Linked DNA regions of Homo sapiens: regions 1, 2 and 4 are each linked to region 3. The links come from fine-mapping of genetic effects on gene expression. A gene starts in region 3. Each other region holds a variant in brackets. All regions are shown on one strand. Distances are from middle to middle.

Region 1 (5,757 bases), 41 kb after region 3:
TCCAAATAAATAAAACATGAATGAGGTATTTTTAAATAGTGATAAAGGCTATTAAAATACAAACAGGCCGGGCGCAACAGCTCACACCTGTAATCCCAGCACTTTGGGAGGCCGAGGTGGGTGGACCACTTGAGGTCAGGAGTTCGAGACCAGCCTGGCCAACATGGCAAAACCCATCTCTACTAAAAATACAAAAATTAGCCGAGCATGGTGGCAGGTGCCTGTAATCCCAGCTGCTCGGGGGGGCTGAGGCAGGAGAATTGCTCGAACCCAGGAGGTGGAGGTTGCAGTGAGCTGAGATTGTGGCATTGCACTCCAGGCTGGGTGACAGAGCGAGACCCAGTCTCAAAGGAAAAACAAACAAAAAACATGGGACAGTGTGTGAGAGAAAGTGATCAGGGGACAACAGAACAACATTAGATAGTGATTCAGGAAAGTCCTAGGCTGGGTGCCGTGGCTCACGCCTGTAATCCCAGCACTTTGGGAGGCTGAGTTGGGCGGATCACCTGAGGTCAGGAGTTCAAGACCAGCCTGGACAACATGGTGAAACCCTCTTTTCTAAAAATACAAAAATTAGCCAGGAATGGTGGGACACACCTGTAATCCCAGATACTTGGTAGGCTGAGGCAGGAGAATCCTTGAACCCAGGAGGCAGAGGTTGCAGTGAGCCGAGATGGTGCCACTGCACTCCAGTCTGGGTGACAGAGTGAGACCTTGTCTCGAAAAAAAAAAAAAAAAAAAAAGCAGTGATTCAGAAAAGTCCTGTCTGAGCATGTGATGTCTGAGCCAAGGTCTGAATGAAGGGAAGATGTGAGGATGGAGCATTTCTGCTACCATTTTTGTCAGGAGAGTGAACAGGTGCAGAGGGCCTGATGCAAGCATGGGTTGGGGTTCCTGGAAAAGCATAAATGAAGCCTGTGACTCAAGCTGGAGAACTAAGGAGGAGTGTGGTAAGAGAGGAGAGCAGAGAGGCAAAGGTGCCAGGTCAGGCTGGGCCCTGTGGGCAAGGAACAGGAGTATGCATTTTGAACATAAGGGACACCTGGAAGGCTCTGAAACTGGGCCATGTCATGGTCTGATTATCTTTCAGAAATGTATCTAGCCACTGGGTTAGGGATAGACCAAAAAAGTGAAAGCAAAAAGACTAGAATTTAATTGCAGTAACATGAAATGATAGCTCAGCATGAACTAGGATGGTAGTGAAAATGGAGAGAAGTGGACAGATTAGAGACCTATGCTTGAGGTCAAGCCAGTAGGGCTTGCTGATGGACTGGCTGGGCACGGGAATGAAGACTAGGGTAAATGGGGAAACAGGAGAATCAAATTTGAACTTGACTTCTAGATCTGGGTTGGTGGTGCCATATGCTGAGATGTGGGACCAGGAAAGGAAAGATTAAGGTGGAGGTAACGGGCAGGAGTCCAATGTTCTATTTAATTCACCTCCAACATGCCTATTAGACATCTGGGTGCAGATGTTGAGTATGTGTTGGGATATATAAGCCTGGATCCCAGAGGAAAGGCAGAACAGGTGGTGGTGAAAAGAGCAGACTCTGGACTCAACCTGGCTCCCACCTATGTAGGCTTGAACAATTTACTTAACCTCTTTGTGCCTCAGTTGCTTCATCTATGAATTGGGGATAAAAACAGTACTCACCCTGTAAATTTCTTGTGAGGATTAAATGAGTTAATACATATAAAGACCTTAAGACAGGGTCTGGTACATAGGGAGTGTCCAATAAGTGTTAACTACTATCATCAATAGGAGGCTGGGATTTGGACACAGCTAAGGGTACAGCTGAGGGCTGGAACACAAATTTGGGAGTCATTAGTGGAATTTTAAAACCATGGGAGTGGACGATATCCCCTCAGGAGACAGTGTGTTTACAGAAGGCGAAAGGGCCCTGAGCCAAGCCTTGGGTCACTCCAACATTTACAGCTAAGACAAAGTAGCCCTCAAATGAGAGTGAGAAAGAACAGCTAATGAGATAGAAGAAAAACTGGGAAGGCATGCAGTCACCGAAACTGGCAGGTTAAACAGTATTCTCCCCAGAATTCATGCCCATCTGGAATTTCAGAATGTAACCCTATTTGAAAATAGGGTCTTTACAGACCTGATTAGTTAGATCTAATAAGTTCAAATGAGGTCATACTGATTACAGTGGGTCCTGAATCCAATGACTGGTGTCCTTACAAAAAGGCCATGTGATGACAGAGGCAGAGATTGGAGTGAGGCAGCTACAAGCCAAGGAACACCAAGGATTGGCAGGAGTGACCAGAAGCTAGGAATAGTCAAGAAAGATTCTTTCCTAAAGACTTCAGAGGGAACAAGGCCATGCTGACACCTTGATTTTGAACTTCTAGCCTCCAAAACTGTAAGGGAATAAATTTCTTTTATCTTAAGCCATTCAATTTGTAGTCATTGGTTACAGCAGCCTTAGGCATCTAATGCAAAAATCAGGAGGAGAAAATGTTTTTAAAAGGGGGAGATAATTGGCTAGGTGTGGTGGTTTATACCTGTAATCCCAGCACTTTGGGAGGCTGAGGCAGGTGGATCACGTGAGGTCAGGAGTTTGAGACCAGCCTGGTCAACATGGTGAAACCCCATCTCTACTGAAAATACAAAAATTAGCCAGGCGTGGTGGTGCATGCCTGTAATCCTAGCTACTC[G/A]GGAGGCTGAGGCATGAGAATCGCTTGAACCCGGGAGGTGGAGGTTGCAGTGAGCCAAGATTGTGCCACTACACTACAGCCTGGGCCACAAGAGCAAAACTTCATCTCAAACAAAACAAACCAACAAACAAAAAGAGGTGGGGAGATGGTCAACTCTTTGAAATGGCTGGTGACAGGTAGAATAAGATCAGTACTGACAAGGGACCACTGGATTTGGTGAGGAAGTCTTTCATGATCTTGCTAGAAAACTCTCAGTGAAATATTTGGGGTTAAATTCTGATTGGAATGGATTAAGGGGAGAATAAAAGGTAGGAAGTTGAGGCAGTTGCGATAGACAACTTTTCAGGATATTTTTTGTAGTGAAGTGGAGGTGAAGGTTGTGAGGCACAAAATTCAAGGGGGGGATTTTTTTTTTTTTTTTTAAGAGACAGGGTCTCACTCTGTCACCCAGGCAGGAATGTAGTGGCACAATCATAGCTCACTGCAGCCTTGAACTCCTGGGCTCAATCAGTCCTCCTGCCTCAGCCTTCTCAATAGCTGGCACTAAAGGTGTGTGCCACCATGCTTAGCTAATTTTAAAAAAATTTTTAGAGATGGGACCTTACAAGGTTGCCCAGACCAGTCTCAAACTGTTGGCCTCACACGGTCTTCCTGCCTTGGTCTCCCAAAGTGTTGGGATTGCAGGTGCAAGCCACCGTGTTTGGACACATTTTTTAAACAACCGCCATTCTAATCATGTTTCTATGCTAGTGGAAATGACCCAGTAGAGAGGGGACTTGATGGTATGAGAAAGAGGGATTTATTTCAGATTCTAAATGCTGGAAAAAAACAAGAGGCTGAGATTCAGATTGCTAGTGGAGAATCTGATCTTTTGTTGAAGCCAGGGAACCTCTACCACGGTACAAGAAAGAAGGCCTAAAATACCGCTACGTTCTGGTCATTTCATGGTGGATAGACAAGGGATTTGATGGATCACTTTGATTTTCTCAGCTACTCACTCAGCTGAAAATAGTGGAAGAGAGAGGATGGGTGGTGTGGAAGGTTTGAGAAGACAGCAGAGCATGCCCCTCTGGGAGTGGGAAACAAATGTACCAGGACAATGCAGTGGGATTGTGGAGTGGGCCTGAAGGCTCAGATTTGAGATTTGTGATTGGTTGTGTGATTTATCCAGCAATATCAGCCACTCAGGTGCAGGTACAGAGCAGACAGAGAGCCAAGAATCCTTGTAAGTGGCACATTTAAATGACACACCATAGAACTTATGGTGGGTGAAGAGAGATGGCAGGACATAAGGAGAAGATGTAAAGAGCTGGTAGGGTCAGTGGATTGGAAGCTTGATGCTGAGAACACTTGAGTAAAGACACTATGAAGAAAGCACCAGAACCTTAATAGGAGTGGTCAGCAGGAAAGTTTATTGAAAATAAGGTTTTTGCAGCCAGGTGCAGTGCCTCACACCTGTAATCCCACCAGTTTGAGAGGCCTAGTAGGCAGGTGGATCACCTGAGGTCAGGAGTTTGAGACCAGCCTGGCCAACATGGTGAAACCCCATCTCTACTAAAAATATAGAAATTAGCTGAGCACGGTGGCGGGTACCTGTAATCCTAGCTACTCAGGAGGCTGAGACAGGAGAATTGTTTGAGCCTGGGAGGTGGAGGTTGCAGTAAGCCGAGATTGTGCCTGAACTCCAGCCTAGGTGACAAAGCGAGACTGTCTTGAAAAAAAAAAGGAAACAAATAAAATAAGTTTTTTGGAAGTTGATGACAAATTAGCTGAAGACATACTATAGACAATCTCCTAAGTGGAAGAGAGAAGGAGCGAGGGATTCAAAAAGAAAGAAACTGTGGCTCATGCCAGAAAGAGTTTATAATCAATTAAGGGATAAAATATGTATCATGCAGCTTTATAACATGGCAGCATACGTAGGTCCATCTATCTAACTGGGTCATAACAGGCTTGAAGGCAGAAATTATGGTCTGGTTCATTTACATCACACTTAGCACCTGCAGGAATTGTGTGTTCTAATTCACTTATATGGCACCTAGCATCTAACAGATGCTATGAATATGTGCTCAGTAAATACTGACTGATAGTATCTTTAGTATCTTTGAATAGTGAAGGTATAAGCATGATAAGCCAAAAATAATAATAATAACAATTATGATAGTGCTTATCCTGGCTTGGGCTGCTATAACAACATATCTTAGATAAGGTAATTTATAAACAATATAAATATATTGCTCACAGTTCTAGATGTTGGCAAGTCTAAGATCAAGGCAGCAACGGTTGTCTGGTGACAGCCTGTTCCTGGTGATAGTGCTTTCTACGTGTCCTCACATGGCAGAAGGGGCGAACAAGCTCCCTCAAGCCTCTAATTCCATTTATGAGAACAGAGCCCTCATGACCTAATCACCTCCCAGAAACCCCATCTCTTAATACTATTGCAGTGAATAATAGATTTTAACATATGAATTTTGGGGGAACATAAACGTTCAGACCATAGCAATGCTGCTTTCCTTGTGCAAGACATTGTTCTAAGTACTTTATATGTATAATGACACATCTGACCACAAAATCCTGTGAGGTAGGTGTTATTAAATAGGAAATTAGGCAAAGAAAAGTTGAGTACCTCGGCCAAGGTCACACAGCTGGTAAGAGGCAGAGCCAGGCTTTGAACCCAGTTAGAGTAACTCTAGTCTGCACTCTCCTAGCCGCCACCTCCATTTCCCATTTAGAAAGAGTAATTAATTAGCCACACTCTACTCAGAAGTCTATGACCCAAAGCAAACGTTCTTATTTTGTGAAACAATGTGGAGACATTGTATTAGTCTGTTCTCATGCTGCTAGTAAAGACATACCTGAGACTGGGTAATTTATAAAGAAAAACAGGTTTAATGGACTCACAGTTCCACATGGCTGGGGGAGCCTCACAATCATGGCGGAAGGTGAAGAAGGAGCAAAGGCGTGTCCTACATCGCAGCAGGCAAGAGTGGGTGTACAGGGGAACTGCCCTTTATAAAACCATCAGATCTCGTGAGACTTATTCACTATCACGAGAACAGCATGGGAAAAACCTGCCCCCATGATTCAATT
Region 2 (5,757 bases), 43 kb before region 3:
TTTTTATGAAGTCCTATATATAAAGTAGGCAAAAGCAGAGCTGCTCTGGCTGGAGCCTCACACCCACTCATTCCCTGTCCCCTATTCACCACTGAGAGCCCTAAGGCCTCTTCTCAACACTCCTAAATTCTGCAGAACACAGTTTTATAGATGACAAAACAGAAGGACAGAGTTTGGTGCCGTGCCCAAACACCAGGATTAATGCCAGGGCTCAAACTTGAGCCTGGGTCTCCTGACTCCCATTTTGGCAGTTCCTGTTCAAATTCCCAGAAGATTGCCAACTAAAGATACTTTCTTTTCAACTTTTCATTCTGAATTAATTTCAGAATTAGAAAAATATGGCCAAAATAGTTCACAGAAGTCCCATATTACTATCACCGGGTTTCTCTAATGTTAACATAAACTTGGTATAGTTATCCAAAACAGTAAAATTAACATTGATCAATACTACTACCTAATAGATAGACCTTATTCAAATTTTGCTAATTTTTCCACCAATGTGCTTTTCCTCGTCCAGGATACAATCTAAGACACAACACTGAATTTAGTTTCATGCCCTATAATCACCTCAAGTCTGGGAAGGTTCCTTGGTCTTCCTTAACCACGCATTACCTTGACACATTTGAAGAGCTAGGAGCAGTTATTTTGTAAAATGTCCCTCAAGTGACATTTGTCTCATGTTTCTTCATGATTAAATTTGGGTTCTACATTTTTGTCAAGCATCCTACAGCAGTAATACTGTGCCCTTCTCAGTGAATCTCATCAGGAGGGGCATGAAATCAATGTCTCTCAGTACTGGTGAAATTAACTTTGATCACTTTGTTTAGGTTGTGTCTGTCCACCAGTGTTCTCCCCTGTAGTACTCTTTTTTTCTTTTGGAATTAATATATCTTGTGGAGAGACCCTTTAAGACTATGTTAGTACCCTTTTTCTCATCATACTTCTACCAACAGATTTTGTCATACGTAGATGATACTTGCTTGCAAGCAACAGTAATTTCGCCTAATGGTGATTTTCTATTTCTATCCTTCTTTCTATGTTTATTAGTTTGAATTCTACTGTAAACAAGAATTCTTTATTCTTCCTATATTCTTTTTAGTAAAACATTCCTAACTTTTGATGTTATCAGAGACCATCATGTTGACTCCACAGAACCCTTGGTATCTGACTCTCGGGTCTGCCCGGTTTTGAGGTATTCACTTCTGTGCCACCATAAAGAAAAATGCCTTCTTTATTTTGCATTTAAACCTTATGATTTTAGTTGCCATTAATAGAATTTTTGGGAGAGGAGTGTGCTAAATGCTTTGCAGGGTGAAGAGGATGTTTTAATTATTCAAGAGAACTGCTTTTATTCAATTCGGGTGTACCCACTTACACATAAAAATTAATGCTAAATAGATGTAATTTCCATCTATTCATTAAAACAAACCCCAAAGCAGTCCAGAAATCCTTAGTAGCCTAATGTTATTCTTGGCACTTGAAAACAAAACTACTTTTCTTAAAGAAGGAAAACCATAACCTGTGTTTTATAAAACACTTATTCTCACCAATGGTGGCCTTCTTGCTCCTTTTTTCCAAGTACCCTCCCTGTTTCCTTCTCCTAAGCAACCATTCACTCAACACTATTTTACTGAGAATCTACTGTGTGCCGGCCTCTTTTCTAAATTCTGGGGCCAAACCAGCAGACAAAACAGACCTGAACTCCCCCGTTTTGAGCTTCCAGTTTATTCAGGGGAGATAGACTACAAATTCTTTAAGTGGTAGCTGCTTTGCAGTAACATTAAGAATCACAGGGGCAGAGGAACCTCTAATTTAGATAGCATGAACAAGGAAAGCCCCTCAGAAGAGGTAGGTGTGGTGAGATTTGAACAGAGAACAGAAAGAAGTGAGGGAGAAGCTGTGTGCCTTGGGGCAGGAGGCGCATTTCAGGAAAGGAGAAGCAAGTGCAAGGTTCTGTTTTAGGGGCAATGATTGGGCTGCATTTGCTAGTGGGAGGGGTTGTTGTGTGTCCCCTTTTGCTATATATATACAGCCTTCTTTTGCTAAGTCTTGCATTTTTAGTACCTTCCCATCTACTTCTCTCTGCTTAATTTTTTCAACATGTAGTTTTGAATATATTTCCTTGAGGTCTGATATAGGGATGGATAGATAGATAGATATAAATATTAATATAATGTATATATAGAGTCTGACTCCTTTTTTTTGATGTGTAACTGTGGACAGCTTTTAAGCCTTGCCTCTCTCTCTTACCTCTCTGCACCACACCCACACCTGGGCAAGCTGCTCAGAAAGCCTGGGTGTGCCCTCCTTTGGTATAGCATCTGAACCAAATTTGGGGTAAAGATTCACAACAATATCCATCTGTGCTGGTCAGTACAATAGGCGCCAGCCACAGCTATTGAGCACCTCAGTTGGAAACATGGCGGGATGTGCTGTACATGCAAAATACACTCTGGGTCTCAAAGACAATATGAAAGAGGCCGGACAACATATAGACCCTGTCTCTACAAAAAACAAAACAATTAGCCCAGCATGGTGGTGCACATCTGTTGTCCTAGCTACTTGGGAGGCCGAGGCTGGAGGATTGCTTAAGCCTGAGAGGTCCGAGCTGCAGTGAGCTATCATCACACCAGTATACTCCGACCTGGGTGACCCTGTCTCTAAAATAAAATAAAATAATAAAAAACAAAGATAGTATGAAAGAATGTAAAATATCCTATTAATAATTTTTAAGTTGCTGGGCACGGTGGCTCACAGCTGTAATCCCAGCACTTTGGGAGGCCGAGGTGGGTGGATCACCTGAGGTCAGGAGTTCGAGACCAGCCTAGCCAACATGGTGAAACCCTGTCTCTAATAAAAAATACAAAAATTAGCCAGGCATGGTGGCAGGTGCCTGTAAACTCAGCTACTCGGGAGGCCGAGGCAGGAGAATTGCTGGAACCCGGGAGGCAGAGGTTGCCATGAGCCAAGATCATGCCATTGCACTCTAGCCCGGGCCAACAACAGCAAGACTCCGTCTCAAAAATAATAATAATAATAATAATTTTTAAGTTGATTGTATGATAAAATAATATATATCAAGTTTAAAGTATTATTAACATTAATTTCACCTTTTTAAACCTTTTTTAATGGGAGTACAGTATTTTTGTTTTGTAGAGCTGGGG[G/T]TTCTCACTATGTTGCTCAGGTTGGTCTTGACCTCCTAGGCTCAAGCAGTCCTCCCGTCTTGGCCTCCCAAAGTGCTGGGATTATGGGCAAGAGCACTGCACCTGGCTACATTAAATTTTTTAATTAAATATATGACTCATATTTGTCATTCACCTTCTACTTCTGTTAGATAGCATTAACATATACCAAAGTAGTGACAATGACTATGTCTTAGTTTGTTACTTTTTTTTAATTCCTTCTTTTGGATTCTCTGTATTCTCTGAGCATGTATTTAAAAATAAAAAGACATTTCTTGGAGTTGTTGTTGGTGGAGATAGGAAGGCCTTTTGGAGGATCTGAGAAGGAAAGGTCTCCCTACCCAAAAAGTCCAGAAAGGGAAAACATTTTCCAATCAGCCATGATTCTGAAACTGACATCTGCCCTCTCTCCACTGTTTAATTAATCTAAACTTGATCTGAGGCTGACTCCATACCTTGAGTCCCTATGTAATGAACTGCATGCAACCTAACTTGGTATGAACTGACTGAAAGCTAATTTAATATATTTTTGTAGCTAATAGCTGAGCCTCAGCAGTAAAACACAGCAGCAAACCTCCAATCAATTATAGGTTACCAACTGATCAGACCATGCTCAAATAAAGCAAACACCTAGCTGTAACCAACCAAGCTGTCTCTGTACCTCACTTCCATTTTCTGTTCATTTGCTGTCAGCCCATATCGGGGAGCAGAGTTCTCTCAACTTCTGCTGGTTCTGAGAGCTGCCCTATTGACAAGTCATTCTTCGCTCAATTAAATTTGGTTAAATTTAACTTATCTAAAGATTTACTTTCAACACTGCACATATACTGTTAGAGACAAGCAGCCTCTCTCTACAAGCGTTGGAATAAATGACTTTCTTATGGTGACTCTGGAGTTTGCAAATGCATTGGTGTGCCTTGGCTTGCAAGCCCTGGCTCGTTAGCACTGATATGCTGCTGTCATAGGAAGCCCAAGGTGTGGCCGACTACGACTTTCCTGTGTAGTCTAGGGTTGCCATTTGTGCTTAATCCAATCCATATCTACTCTCTACAAGCCCTCAGTGTCCCAGATCCTTGTCCACAAACCTGGAGGACCAAGCTGGGGATGGCTGTCCAAGCATGGATCAAGCTGCTTTGCAGACTGCTTTGCAGGGTAATGTTTTGGAACAAACTGTACAGACTTAGTCATGCAAAATGTTATTGTATTGAAGAGGTCAGAATTCAGAGCACACTTGGCTAATCCAGCAACTGAATTTTACTACTACTGACTCTGATGAACAGAAAACAACTCTGCCACCTGTACACAGGCAGTCAACTCTTTCTACCAGAAGAGGAATGGACAGTAAGAGAAGGCAGAACAGGGGGAAGAAATCAAATGGATTTAACTAGATCATCACATAAAAACTGCAAATGTCCTATCATTTTTCAGAAAGATTCAATGTCTGCTTTCAAAGGATTTTACTATATGTATCTTCTTTACACAAGTACATTTTAAAATTTAAGTCCGAGTGATTTCAATTCTGTAAATTTTGAAATTTCACTGAGTAAGAAAAATACTGACTACTGACCCTCAAGAGGCAAGTCTACACAAATAGGCAAATTTGTAAGTTTACTGTTGGGGCTCTGAAAATGATACCCCAAAGTTTGGGGCTTTCATGCAGAGTGCTTTGAACTAAGGGAGAACCAAAAAGCCTCCCTGAACTTCTGCCCTGCTGTCTCTCACCCCTGTTTCAAAAGCACAGGGAAGGGTGGTCTCTGAACTTGCCTCGTCTGCCTAAAGATAGATCTTCCAAAAAGGCACTCAATTGCCATGAGTTTCCTCCCCAGGAATCTCATTAATTAGGAAAAATTAACTGTATCACAGGAGGAGAACAGACTGAAGGTAATTGCCAAGCCCAGACATTATCACAAACTATCACCTGTTCTGAGGGGTGCTCCAAGACAACCTTTATTACTCTGGAGACTGTTTATCTGCATAACAAGACAACTTTTATTCACCATGCATTTCCTCTCCTTTCCCTCCCATAATTTGTGTCATGCCCCACCCCCAAATTAAGCTCCAAGCCCCAATTCCTTTCTGTAGCTCAGGATGCTATATAAACTTTAATCATCTAGCCCTTCTTTGAGTCTCATCTTTTGTGAGATTCCCATGCCTATGCACATAATTAAAATTGTTTTTTCCTGTTAATCTATCTACTGTCTATTTACTTCCCAGACTCAATGATCAAACCTTAAGAGGGTAGAGAGAAAGGTTTTCTCCCTTACATTACATTCCACCTAAGATCCACAAAAAGAGAAAATTTCACTTTTAGGTAATGAAAAAGTTACCCAAAATATAAAAACCCTCATATTTGACTTTACTCTTCTAACTCCGCAAACTGAAGCCACCACTAGCTACTACAATTTGACCACCAAGGTATACATTTTTCTAACAGCTGTAATGAGGTATAGTTCACATACTCTACAAGTGACTCTTTTAAGGTGTCTAATTCAACAGGTTTTATACACTTACAGAGTTGTGCTCCCATCACCACAATAAATTCTGGAATATTTTCAATACCCCAAAAAGAAACACA
Region 3 (5,757 bases):
ACCTTATGGTTCATATAGCTATCAGAATTTTGGGCAAAGCCATTCAACAAGTCTCTAGGAAGTTCCAAACTTTCCCACATTTTCCTGTCTTCTTCTGAGCCCTCCAAACTGTTCCAACCTCTGCCTGTTACCCAGTTCCAAAGTTGCTTCCACGTTTTCGGGTATCTTTTCAGCAATGCCCCACTCTACTAGTACCAATTTACCGTATTAGTCTGTTTTCATGCTGCTAAGACATACCCAAGGCTGGCCACAGTGGCTCATGCCTGTAATCCCAGAACTTTGGGAGGCTGAGGCAGGTGAATCACCTTAGGTCAGGAGTTCAAGACCAGCCTGGCCAATGTGGTGAAACCCCATCTCTACTAAAAATACAAAAAAAAATTAGCCAGAGGTGGTGGTGGGCGCCTGTAATCCCAGCTACTTACAGTTCCACAATGGCTAGGGAGGCCTCAGAATCATGGCAGAAGGTAAAAAGCACTTCTTACATGGCAGTGGCAAGAGAGAATGAGGAAGACAGAAAAGCGGAAACCCCTGATAAATCCATCAGATCTCATGAGACTTATTCACTTATTCACAAGAATAGCACGGGAAAAATCGGCCCCCATGATTCAATTACCTCCCACTGGGTCCCTCCCACAATAAGTGGGAATTCTGGGAGATACAATTCAAGTTGAGATTTTGGTAGGGACACAGCCAAACCATATCAATCAGAAAATACAAAACCCATGGGTACAGATCTAAGCACACAAAGATTATATAGTGGCTGCCACTCATGTAAATAACCAAACATATGTCTCTTCCTGCATAAAGCTTTCTATTTTTCATTAAACTCATTCCTCCCACAGTCCAGAGAACTGGATTTTCTAATCTCAAGGTATTGGTATTTCCAATGCTTTCACTTATTTGATGAAACATTTGATTGCACTCTTCATGCAACTATTAGGACCAACTGCAAGAAAGAGGTTAAATTTTTAATCTCCACTTCCAAAAATAATTTAAAAACAGTGTCTCCTACTAAAAGGCCAATTAGAAGAGAGAGCCATAAATTCATATTTATATTTACTCATATATGAATACAAATATGAACTATAAATGTATATTTACTCCTATGTTTACAATGTGTTCTACTGAAAATGTAAAGCAAGTGTCTTAATTTAGGGTAACGTATTCCATTTTAGACAGAACTATAACAAATGTTATATTCTTCAATTAAAAGTGGACCTTTTGAGTTAAACTGAAATACAGTTTAAATATTTTCTGTAAGACATAAGAATAAAAGGGAATCCTACGAGAGCTAGAAAGGCAACCAGCACTAATATCGCATATATTGTGATGCGTAGTAGTGCAGAGTTTGGAGTGAAATCATCTGAGTTCCAGGTGACCCTGGACAAGTGATTGCTCTTCTAGACTAGTGGTTTTCAAAGCATGGTCCCTGGGCTAACGAACAGCATTGACCTCACTTGGTAATTTGGTAGAAATGTAATTGGGGTGGAGAGAAGGGACCTAGGAATCTGTGTTTTAACAAGGTCAGTCCTCCTCACCTCTGATGAATGCTCAAATTTGAGAGTCAGTACTACAGGCTCTTCAATGTTTTCAGCCTTAAAAAAAATGTGCCAGAGGGCATGGGCTCTATATGGTTAATAAAGCAGCATAAAAACGTTACGAAGCACCTATCCCACAAGTGGAAATTCCAAGTTGGCAAATGCCTTAAAGGGCCAAGCGAAACAAACACCATAAAAATTGTAAATGCATATGTCTTTAAGATTTGTTTAAAAGTTACTGAACCTTATTTCATCATTAAGACCGTTCACACCAATGAAGCAGTGTGATATAAATGCATGAGCTATTTTGCTTTCACATTTAACCTTCTTTCTTAGTATTTTGTATCATTTCAGATCCCATCAGATTTATAAGCTGAAAAATGATTTGGGGTGTGGGGAGGAGTGAAGTTGGCAAACCCAAACAAGCAAGCAAAGAATACACTTCCATATGGTCAACCTAGGGTCAAGAATAGCTGTTTAGGTTGGAGTTCTACCTAACATACTGTGTTGACTTTGCCTAGTCAATCCACCTCTTGGCCTCAGTCTTCTCAACAAGATGAGGCTACTAATATTCACTGGACAGGAGTAGTGTTAAGGTATGAAGTAACACCTGTGACAGCACTTTGTAAACTGTAAAACACAATACAAATGGTGTTCATGATGGAATAAAAACATGCTAAACAATTATCTCATTGAAGCTTCACAATCCTGAACCAACAGCTGTTGTCCTCATTATACAAATGAGAATCCTGAAAAGAAATTAAACTTGCCCGGGACCACAAACCTAAAAAGTGGCAAATGAAGAAATTTTAAAGTATAGCAGTAAAAGTAACACTTTGGGAATTAACGGGAGGTTAACTTTCAACAATCCCAGCAAAAGATAACCGTGAAGCACTAAGAACTCCGGCGAGAACCGCACACCAGCAACAACTGCGAGGTGGTGCAGGGTCGGGGGCTGTGCTAACTGACTTAGGGGAGCATTAGGAGGCAGGTGGAGGCTCCAGAACCAAAAAGGCCGGGATGCCTTCAACAAGGAGGTTGAGGGGAGGGATGGACAAGCCTGAGAAGACGGAGGAATGAAGTTTGGGGACGCAAAACCCACTGGGAAACAGAAAGCCCTCCAAATAGGCTAGACTGCTGGATGGGAGGACAGCGGCCCCCGCGACTAAGCGGGCCGGGGCTAGGGGCCTGGGCGTCAGACTAGGACAGACACTATCCCCAGCCCGCCGCAGTGCAAGCCACGCCGCGCGGGCCGCAAAGCCACTGTCCCCGAGCCCCAACAGCGTCTCCAAGGGCAGCGCGCCAGGGTGCCCCGCAACCCCTCACCTGGAGCGCGGTGGAACCTGCGGCAGCGGACGCAGAAACCGGCCGCTGAGAGACCGAAAGCGACCGGAAGTGAAGGGCGGGACCGGAACCGGCTGAAAAACCGGAAGTGGGTGGTTTGAAACGGAAATATGTTGGGGACGGAACAACTGCTTCCTTTGAATCTCTTCGGGTGCTAATCAAATGGCCGCTGTAAGGGATCTCCACAAAGCCACGAAGAAGCCAGGCCTTTCCGAGACTGTAACCGCTGTGCAGATAGCGCCGATCCCTGGGTGGCCGCTCTCTCGTTCTGCGCGTGCGCTCGTTCTGGGCTGGGAGCGGATGGGTGCTGAGGCGTGTGACGTCTCTAGTAGTGTCGTAACTGGGTGTGCTGCCTTTTCCAGGTGTACTGAGGTCTTCGTGAGATTCAGGGCTAGGACTCGTGTGGCTGTGTCATGTTCCGAATGAAGCTTAAAAGGTGATCTTTGAGAACTGAAGACTTGAGACCCCTCCATGGGCCCAGGGGCTGCCAACACTAATAATTTCAGAGACTTAGAATCTGAGGAGAATCTCCAATCTAAGGGGAAACGGAAGAGGGTCAGGAAAGAGAAGGGGCAAGCTTAAGTGACTCAGAATCCAAGAAGCAAGTCTCATAGGAGAGCTGCGATCGAGGTTACCATACAGTATCCAATCGTCTCAACCTTCCCATCCATACTTCCATGCTGTCTTTCCTCTGAATGCAAGGAAAACCGGTTACACAAACGCTGACAAAAGAATGTCAGACTTGAATGGAAATTCGGAGCAGTACCCATCTGGTCCATACAGCGAACTCCCAGTGAGCACCACGGCAATGTAACTAATTCATGTTTCCCTCTTGGCAGTGCGGGAAAGGCAGCAAAGAGCCAAGTTTTGTATCTTAACAGTTCTTTAGTTAAGAGGCACACGCTATTTTGCATTCTTCCCTACTTTTGATAATTTTTGGCTGCACTAGTAATGCATGAGTATCTGCTCATTTAAAAAACTCAAACTTTTTCAGTGAAAAGTATGCCCTTTTCTTCAGAAAGTCTTAATTAAAAAAAAAAAAAAAATCATTGCCCAGACCAACATTTTCAAGCATTTTCTCAAATCGTTTTCTTGGAATAGCTGCATAGTTTTGGGTCTTACATTGAAGTTTGGTGCTCATATGTGGGAGCTAAAAAAAAGTTGACTCCATGGAGATAGAGAGTAAAATTGTGGTTACCAGAGGCTGGGAAGGATAAGGAGGGAGAAGGAGATGAAGAGAAGTTAAAAGGAGCGAAAATATGGTTAGACAGAAGGAATAAGTTGTAGCGTTCCACAGCACAGTAGGGTGACTATAGTAATCAATAATTTATTTTGTATTTCAAAATAGAGGAGAAAGGTTGGGATAGTCTCAACACAAATGATAAATGTTGGCCGGGCACAGTGTGGCTCACACCTGTAATCCCAGCACTTTGGGAGGCCAAGACAGGCAGATGACTAGAGGTCAGGAGTTCAAGACCAGCCTGGCCAACATGGTGAAACCCAGTCTTTACTAAAAATAAAAAAAATTAGCTAGGTGTGGTGGCATGTGCCTTTAACCCTAGCTACTCGGGAGGCTGAGGCATGAGAATCACTTGAGCCTGGGAGGTGGAGGTTGTAGTGAGCCAAGATCATGCCACTGCACTCCATCCTGGGTGATAGAGCAAGACTATCTCAAAAAAAAAAAAAAAAAAAAAGAAAAGAAGAACTTTTGCCTCCTGTTGCTCCCTGGAGCCTCTCTTCTAATGTGTGGAGGATAATATACTTGTCCTTCATTCATGCATCTCTGTAGCAGCTAAAGATGCCTGGGAATTCCTCCATAGATTGTCAGGTCTGAGAGTCTAAATAATATATGGAAACAATTTCACAACATCAGATGACAAACTGTTAATATTACTGTGACCACATTTACTTTGGAAGATAAAAGGACATTCCTGCACCTAGGCCAGAAATCCCCCACTACTCTGCTTTTATCTCCATCTCCCCCAGACTTTTTTCTCCCCTTTTCTCTCTCTGGCCATTTTCTTTCTCTAGCAAGTGTGTTCTCTTGCCCAGCTCAGATCTACTCCCCTCAAAAAGCTTTCCCTCTCTTCCCAGTTGGAAGACAATCCTCTTCAAAAATTTAGTTCCCTCTAGAAGTTTGTCTCTCTCTTCTAATACCTACTCCTTTGCCTTTATCTTGCCTGCAGTAAGAGAGCTGAAAATATTTAGAATCTGCCCCACATGACAGAATACAGGTTCTTAATGAAGCATGCCCAGTTACTGCCCTTCTCTATTCAGCATGCTTTCCCCAAACTACTACTTAAAAACTCCATTCTCTTCAAACCTCAGAACTTCCAATATACTCCTTTGCTCTAGGCAGATGACATTGTCCCATATTTTGGCAATTCTTCAAACCTCTGAATCTACAAACTAAGGTATATTTTCAGTCATCCTCACTCTTGCTTATTTCAGTTGAGGCAGTTCGCTTCTATTTGAAGCCAACCCTTTAACTTGTTCTCCGGCTTCTTCCTTCTAAGGAAGCTTTCTATAAATCCAGGATTCCCTTCTCTTGCTCTTGTATTTTTAACCTCTTTCTACTGGCTCATTCCCATCAATAATAAACATGCCATGGTATCTTGCCATCATAGCCATCACCCTTTCCTTTCACAGATGGATATTCAGAACATTGTTTACAGTTGTCTGAACTTGACATAATCTATAATTGTATACTTCTTGGAAATATTCTTTCTTTAGTGACATTCTCTCCCACTATATTGTAAGCATATTAGTTTTCACACTGCTATAAAGATGCTACCTGAGACTGGGTAATTTCTAAATAAAAGAGGTTTAATTGACTCACAGTTCCACAGGGCTAGGGAGGCCTCAGGAAACTTAC
Region 4 (5,482 bases), 53 kb before region 3:
GAGAAGATGAATGATGATAATAACAATGACATCCATGTATCACTTAACAACAGGGATACATTCTGAGAAATTCATCTTTAGGCAGCTATATCATTGTGCAAACATATATGGTGTACCCACACAAACCTAGATGGTATAGCCTACTACGCTTCTAGGCTTTATGGTATAGCCTATTGCTCCTAGGCTGCAAACCTGTACAGCATGTTCCTGTACTGAATACTGTAGGCAATTACAACACAATGGTTTGTATATCTAAACAGAAAAGATATAGCAAAAATACAATATTATAACAATATAGGACCACTGGTCATATATGTGATCCTTCTTTGACTGAAATGTTATTATGTGATGCATAATTACTTTTCTTAGCACTTTTCTATGTGTCTAGAGCTGTGCCAAGGGTTTTCCATGTTTATTTCACTTAATCTACAAAATTAACGCAACAAAGGTAGCTGATGTTATTCTTGTTTTTTTACCCCCTTTTTTGTGGAAAAGAGGCTTTCCTTTTTTCCAGAAACTGTGGCAAGGTAAAGTAAAGCTGTAGCTGATGCAGGAATTTTGTGTAGGTGTTAGCAGCACTGCCCTCACTACGTGCTCATTGGACAGTAGCCCAACCCCAAGAAAAGGATGGTTGGTAGCCAGTAGTATTATCATCATTTCACAAGTGATTGAAGACTCAGAGAGGTTAAGTGACTTTACCAAGGTCACCCAGCTAGGAAATGACATAACCAAGACATAAACTCAATCTGCCAGACAGAAAGGCCATGCACCTAACCACTCCACTACCTCTGATGTTGGTCATTGATCTTGGCACTCAGAATTAGTCCTGATAGAGGAGACCTGGGCTCCAGAAGCCTAAAATTGTTGTTTCAACTGAGTGCATGTAATGAATGATAGAACAGGCAAGAGATATCGCCCCCAAAATGGATAGCTCCTGGCTGTTCCAGATATTATAAAATTATTTTACTAAACAGAATGTCTACACTTATAGAGGCTAAGATATTGGCTTCCCAGCTTCCTCACCTTACAGCAGAATTCCTTTGCCTGTTGCAAGGTTCCAGAGGCCCTTTTGTACCGCCCCAGACTCCTTTCACCCCACTTTTAAAATCACTGGACAAAGCCCTAATTCAGCATAGCATTTAGCATGTGGTAGAAATTCAGTGAGCTAGTTACTCTCTGGGAAAATAATTAGGTAGGGAGGCTATCCTGGAATAGATATTTACCTAAATATTATTTTACATCTTGGCAAGTACTTTCCCTATTTAAGATCTGTATGACTAATAGGTGATATTGAGTGCTTCCTATGTGCTAAAGACTTGCTAAGAGTTTGACGTGATTTTTACCTTGAACTATAATTCTATGAAGTAGGCATTATTGTTATCCCTATTTATAAGTGAGGAAACAGACACAGAGAACCTAAGACATTTTCCTGAAGTTACACAGCTATTAAGTAGCAGTGCCAGAATTTGAAGGCAAGTTTTCTGATGAAATGATCAGGATATGGTATTTCTCAATATCTCAGGGATGGCTAGAGCAAATCTGTCTCTCTCTCACCATCAGCTCAGGACTGGGTGAGTGGCCATGGGGTCTTGAGGCAAGGCAATTGTGCTAGAAAGATGAAAGCTGGGCCAAACGATTTCTCCCTCAAGGGCTTACAAAGTACAAAAGCTGCACCTACATGTGGAGTGTCTGCCAGTAGGTGGTGCAAGTTCTATGCACACCCCTGTGAATTGCAAGCACAGTGCCCTAAGACCAAGATGGGCTTGTTTTGGGAGAGTATGCATTGCAGAAACAGGCTCAGCTTACCCTGTGACTATGTTGCCAAGGGGTCTTCA[C/T]AGCTTTCCTTCTCTTTTGCAGAAAGATAGAGTCTTCACGGACAAGACCTCAGCCACGGTCATCTGCCGCAAAAATGCCAGCATTAGCGTGCGGGCCCAGGACCGCTACTATAGCTCATCTTGGAGCGAATGGGCATCTGTGCCCTGCAGTTAGGTGAGCAGGCCCTCAAAGGCCAGCCCAGGCCTGCACTCTCAGTGCACCTGGATGCAGGGATATGATTGGGGGCTGTGTTGGAGAGGAAAGGGGGATGGAGTGGCCAGCACCCAGTTGCCAGAATCAGAAACATACATTTATTCACTAACAGATATTTATTTGGTGCCTTTGTTATGTAGGACACTGTGCTGGCCACAGGGATATTGCAGGAAAGAAAACAGACCGGGGTTCTGGCCTCCTAAAGAGAAAGGCAAAGAAAAGAGAGAGGTAGCCAGGAGGCAGAGCATGGAGGACTTGCAAGCTTGCAGGACTCAGAATCTTGTTCTGGGGGCCCCGGGCCCTGAAACCCACTGAAGGGTTTTCAGCAAGGAAGTAACACAATCAGATATTATTTTAAGAAAACCCTCAAGAAAGCCTCTGGCAAGCATGGTGCCAGCCAAATTCCAGGCCACATAAGGAAGGCCTGGGCCTTCTGGCATGAAATCCCTGAAACCCAGTTGCCCAGGATCATATGTTGTGAGAAATAAGAAGAGACATTGCTGTTACAATGTCACCCCACATCAACTTTTGGCATTCTCTTCCAGGTTCTGATCCAGGATGAAAATTTGGAGGAAAAGTGGAAGATATTAAGCAAAATGTTTAAAGACACAACGGAATAGACCCAAAAAGATAATTTCTATCTGATTTGCTTTAAAACGTTTTTTTAGGATCACAATGATATCTTTGCTGTATTTGTATAGTTAGATGCTAAATGCTCATTGAAACAATCAGCTAATTTATGTATAGATTTTCCAGCTCTCAAGTTGCCATGGGCCTTCATGCTATTTAAATATTTAAGTAATTTATGTATTTATTAGTATATTACTGTTATTTAACGTTTGTCTGCCAGGATGTATGGAATGTTTCATACTCTTATGACCTGATCCATCAGGATCAGTCCCTATTATGCAAAATGTGAATTTAATTTTATTTGTACTGACAACTTTTCAAGCAAGGCTGCAAGTACATCAGTTTTATGACAATCAGGAAGAATGCAGTGTTCTGATACCAGTGCCATCATACACTTGTGATGGATGGGAACGCAAGAGATACTTACATGGAAACCTGACAATGCAAACCTGTTGAGAAGATCCAGGAGAACAAGATGCTAGTTCCCATGTCTGTGAAGACTTCCTGGAGATGGTGTTGATAAAGCAATTTAGGGCCACTTACACTTCTAAGCAAGTTTAATCTTTGGATGCCTGAATTTTAAAAGGGCTAGAAAAAAATGATTGACCAGCCTGGGAAACATAACAAGACCCCGTCTCTACAAAAAAAATTTAAAATTAGCCAGGCGTGGTGGCTCATGCTTGTGGTCCCAGCTGTTCAGGAGGATGAGGCAGGAGGATCTCTTGAGCCCAGGAGGTCAAGGCTATGGTGAGCCGTGATTGTGCCACTGCATACCAGCCTAGGTGACAGAATGAGACCCTGTCTCAAAAAAAAAAATGATTGAAATTAAAATTCAGCTTTAGCTTCCATGGCAGTCCTCACCCCCACCTCTCTAAAAGACACAGGAGGATGACACAGAAACACCGTAAGTGTCTGGAAGGCAAAAAGATCTTAAGATTCAAGAGAGAGGACAAGTAGTTATGGCTAAGGACATGAAATTGTCAGAATGGCAGGTGGCTTCTTAACAGCCCTGTGAGAAGCAGACAGATGCAAAGAAAATCTGGAATCCCTTTCTCATTAGCATGAATGAACCTGATACACAATTATGACCAGAAAATATGGCTCCATGAAGGTGCTACTTTTAAGTAATGTATGTGCGCTCTGTAAAGTGATTACATTTGTTTCCTGTTTGTTTATTTATTTATTTATTTTTGCATTCTGAGGCTGAACTAATAAAAACTCTTCTTTGTAATCATATTTTGGGCATTCTCAGCTGATTTGAGTACTCTGCTTGCAAGTCTACCAGGGGTGCATTTTTTCCCCTATCATTTAAGCATTGCCCTTTCTTGAAGTGATCCCATTCCAAATTTTGCAGAGTTGCTCTTTCCCCTTATAGTATTTCCAAAGTCAGTGTCTTCCTGAGCTCAGGGGATGTCCCTGTAATCTGACAAGGAAGGATCCTTTGCAAGGGCACTGAACTGCATTGTGCCTTTTTTAGGGGTGGAAGCTCTCACTTATTCCACCCTCTATCCTGGAATCGACTCTACTGGTATCCCAAGAATCATGAAATAAAACTCTAACCTGGTACAGCCATGGACATCTCAGCTCTTAGGTCCAGCTCTAGTATTTATTGAGAGTTTGCCGTATATATGGACATGTGCTAGCCCTCAGGGTTGGGAAGTTTCAAAAAGCCTTGCATTGTGTCTCCCAAACAGTGCCCACTCCTAACACTGCTTATAAGGCAGGATGAAAAGTTAACTTCACTATCATTACACGCTAAAATGTTCAGGATATATGGTAGCCTGGGGTGAGAATGAAAAAGAAGGATCTGTGTAACCCAGCACCATCCAGGAAGACTCATCAGAGAAGAGAGGGTGCCAACTTTGGGCTAAAGAATGGGCAGGGCCTGCAAATTCCCCTTGGTGCTTCCCATGGAAGGAGGAGATGGTGGGATCAGAGGGAATGCAGTCCAATTTCCTGCTATCCCAAAAATCCAAGTGTGCACATTCAGGCTTCCTTGCAATGGCAGGGTAATTATAATAGGGGTGTTTGTTTACATTCCTGATTTTCAGTGTCCCCTGGAGCCCTATGCCACTCTGCTCCTGGCCTGGAGGAATGGTGGGTGGCTTCTGTCATTCTTTGCCAACCTTTGGAGCATATGGTCCCGTGTTATAAGCCCACACTTGACAGCATATGGTTGTTAATAACAAGTGTTTGTCCCCCTACAGGGTCTTTCATCTGCAGTTACCAAAGTACTTAACGGACATTTAATGAACAACACTAACCAGATTTTTAAAAAATAAATAACTAATCACATTTCATAAGCACTGAGAACTGGGACCTTTCCCCAAATTTCTGGCCAGCCTGGGGCAGAGGTGAGATGTTCTGGCTCCCACCATGCCCAGTGCTTTTGCGACATGACCTCTTAGCATTCGATTAATTTCAGTGCATGCAATGCAGAGTTTTTCTTCTTTAAAGATAGTCTCCAGGACTGTCCTTTTTATTGTAAATCTAGCCACTACAAAATGTACTAAATGTCTAAGCCAAAGATCTTAGGACTGGGAATCAGAGGAGCAGACTCCAGTCCCAACTATGGTTACATAACAGACTTGTGACCTTGAGCAGGGTGTTGGAAACAGCCTGCTGGTTTTCCAATCAATACTCATTCCCAACTGTTTTCTCCCCGATGCCCTCTTCAGCTCTAAATGTTGGTAAGTTTAGCGACCACTTTTTCAGCCACCTTTGTTGCCCAGCAAAGCCAAAACACTGAGTTCTGGCCAATGAGATATAAGAAAATTCTGCTGGGAGGGTTGCTGAGAAGCTTTGGCTTTTCTGATGAAAGACA

Direction of the effects. Positions count from the first base shown, and alleles are read on the strand shown. Sizes are in standard deviations (SD) of each study's normalised expression. Not every link is listed here.
For the expression in lung of the gene that starts at base 2,935 in region 3, C is the low allele of the variant in region 4 and T is the other (small effect, 0.19 SD a copy in GTEx).

Evidence for each region. PIP is the estimated chance that this variant, and not a neighbour inherited with it, causes the effect. A credible set is the group of variants that fine-mapping cannot tell apart.
Region 1: its variant is the best candidate, but not a certain one, in a credible set for the expression of UBLCP1 in whole blood (INTERVAL, PIP 0.67).
Region 2: its variant is the best candidate, but not a certain one, in a credible set for the expression of UBLCP1 in whole blood (TOPMed, PIP 0.88).
Region 4: its variant is the best candidate, but not a certain one, in a credible set for the expression of UBLCP1 in lung (GTEx, PIP 0.69).

Annotation. Positions count from the first base shown.
Region 1 is chr5:159,219,775-159,225,531 of GRCh38, reverse strand. No RefSeq gene overlaps it. Among named protein-coding and RNA genes, the nearest start is that of LINC01932, 5.1 kb to the left of the region's middle. The variant G/A (reference allele first, on the strand shown) is at 2,668.
Region 2 is chr5:159,303,773-159,309,529 of GRCh38, reverse strand. No RefSeq gene overlaps it. Among named protein-coding and RNA genes, the nearest start is that of IL12B, 24 kb to the left of the region's middle. The variant G/T (reference allele first, on the strand shown) is at 3,165.
Region 3 is chr5:159,260,468-159,266,224 of GRCh38, reverse strand. It overlaps UBLCP1 (ubiquitin like domain containing CTD phosphatase 1), which reads right to left and starts at 2,935. Exons shown (of 11, transcript NM_145049.5): 1 at 2,865-2,935. RefSeq lists enhancers at 2,695-3,202, 2,959-3,268, 3,299-3,368, 3,203-3,710.
Region 4 is chr5:159,313,192-159,318,673 of GRCh38, reverse strand. IL12B (interleukin 12B) reads left to right here. Exons shown (of 8, transcript NM_002187.3): 7 at 1,858-1,989; 8 at 2,574-3,894. The coding sequence ends at 1,989. It overlaps LOC105377683 (a long non-coding RNA gene), which reads right to left. Exons shown (of 3, transcript XR_941138.3): 3 at 3,198-3,456. It also overlaps the pseudogene RNU4ATAC2P. Among named protein-coding and RNA genes, the nearest start is that of IL12B, 15 kb to the left of the region's middle. The variant C/T (reference allele first, on the strand shown) is at 1,836.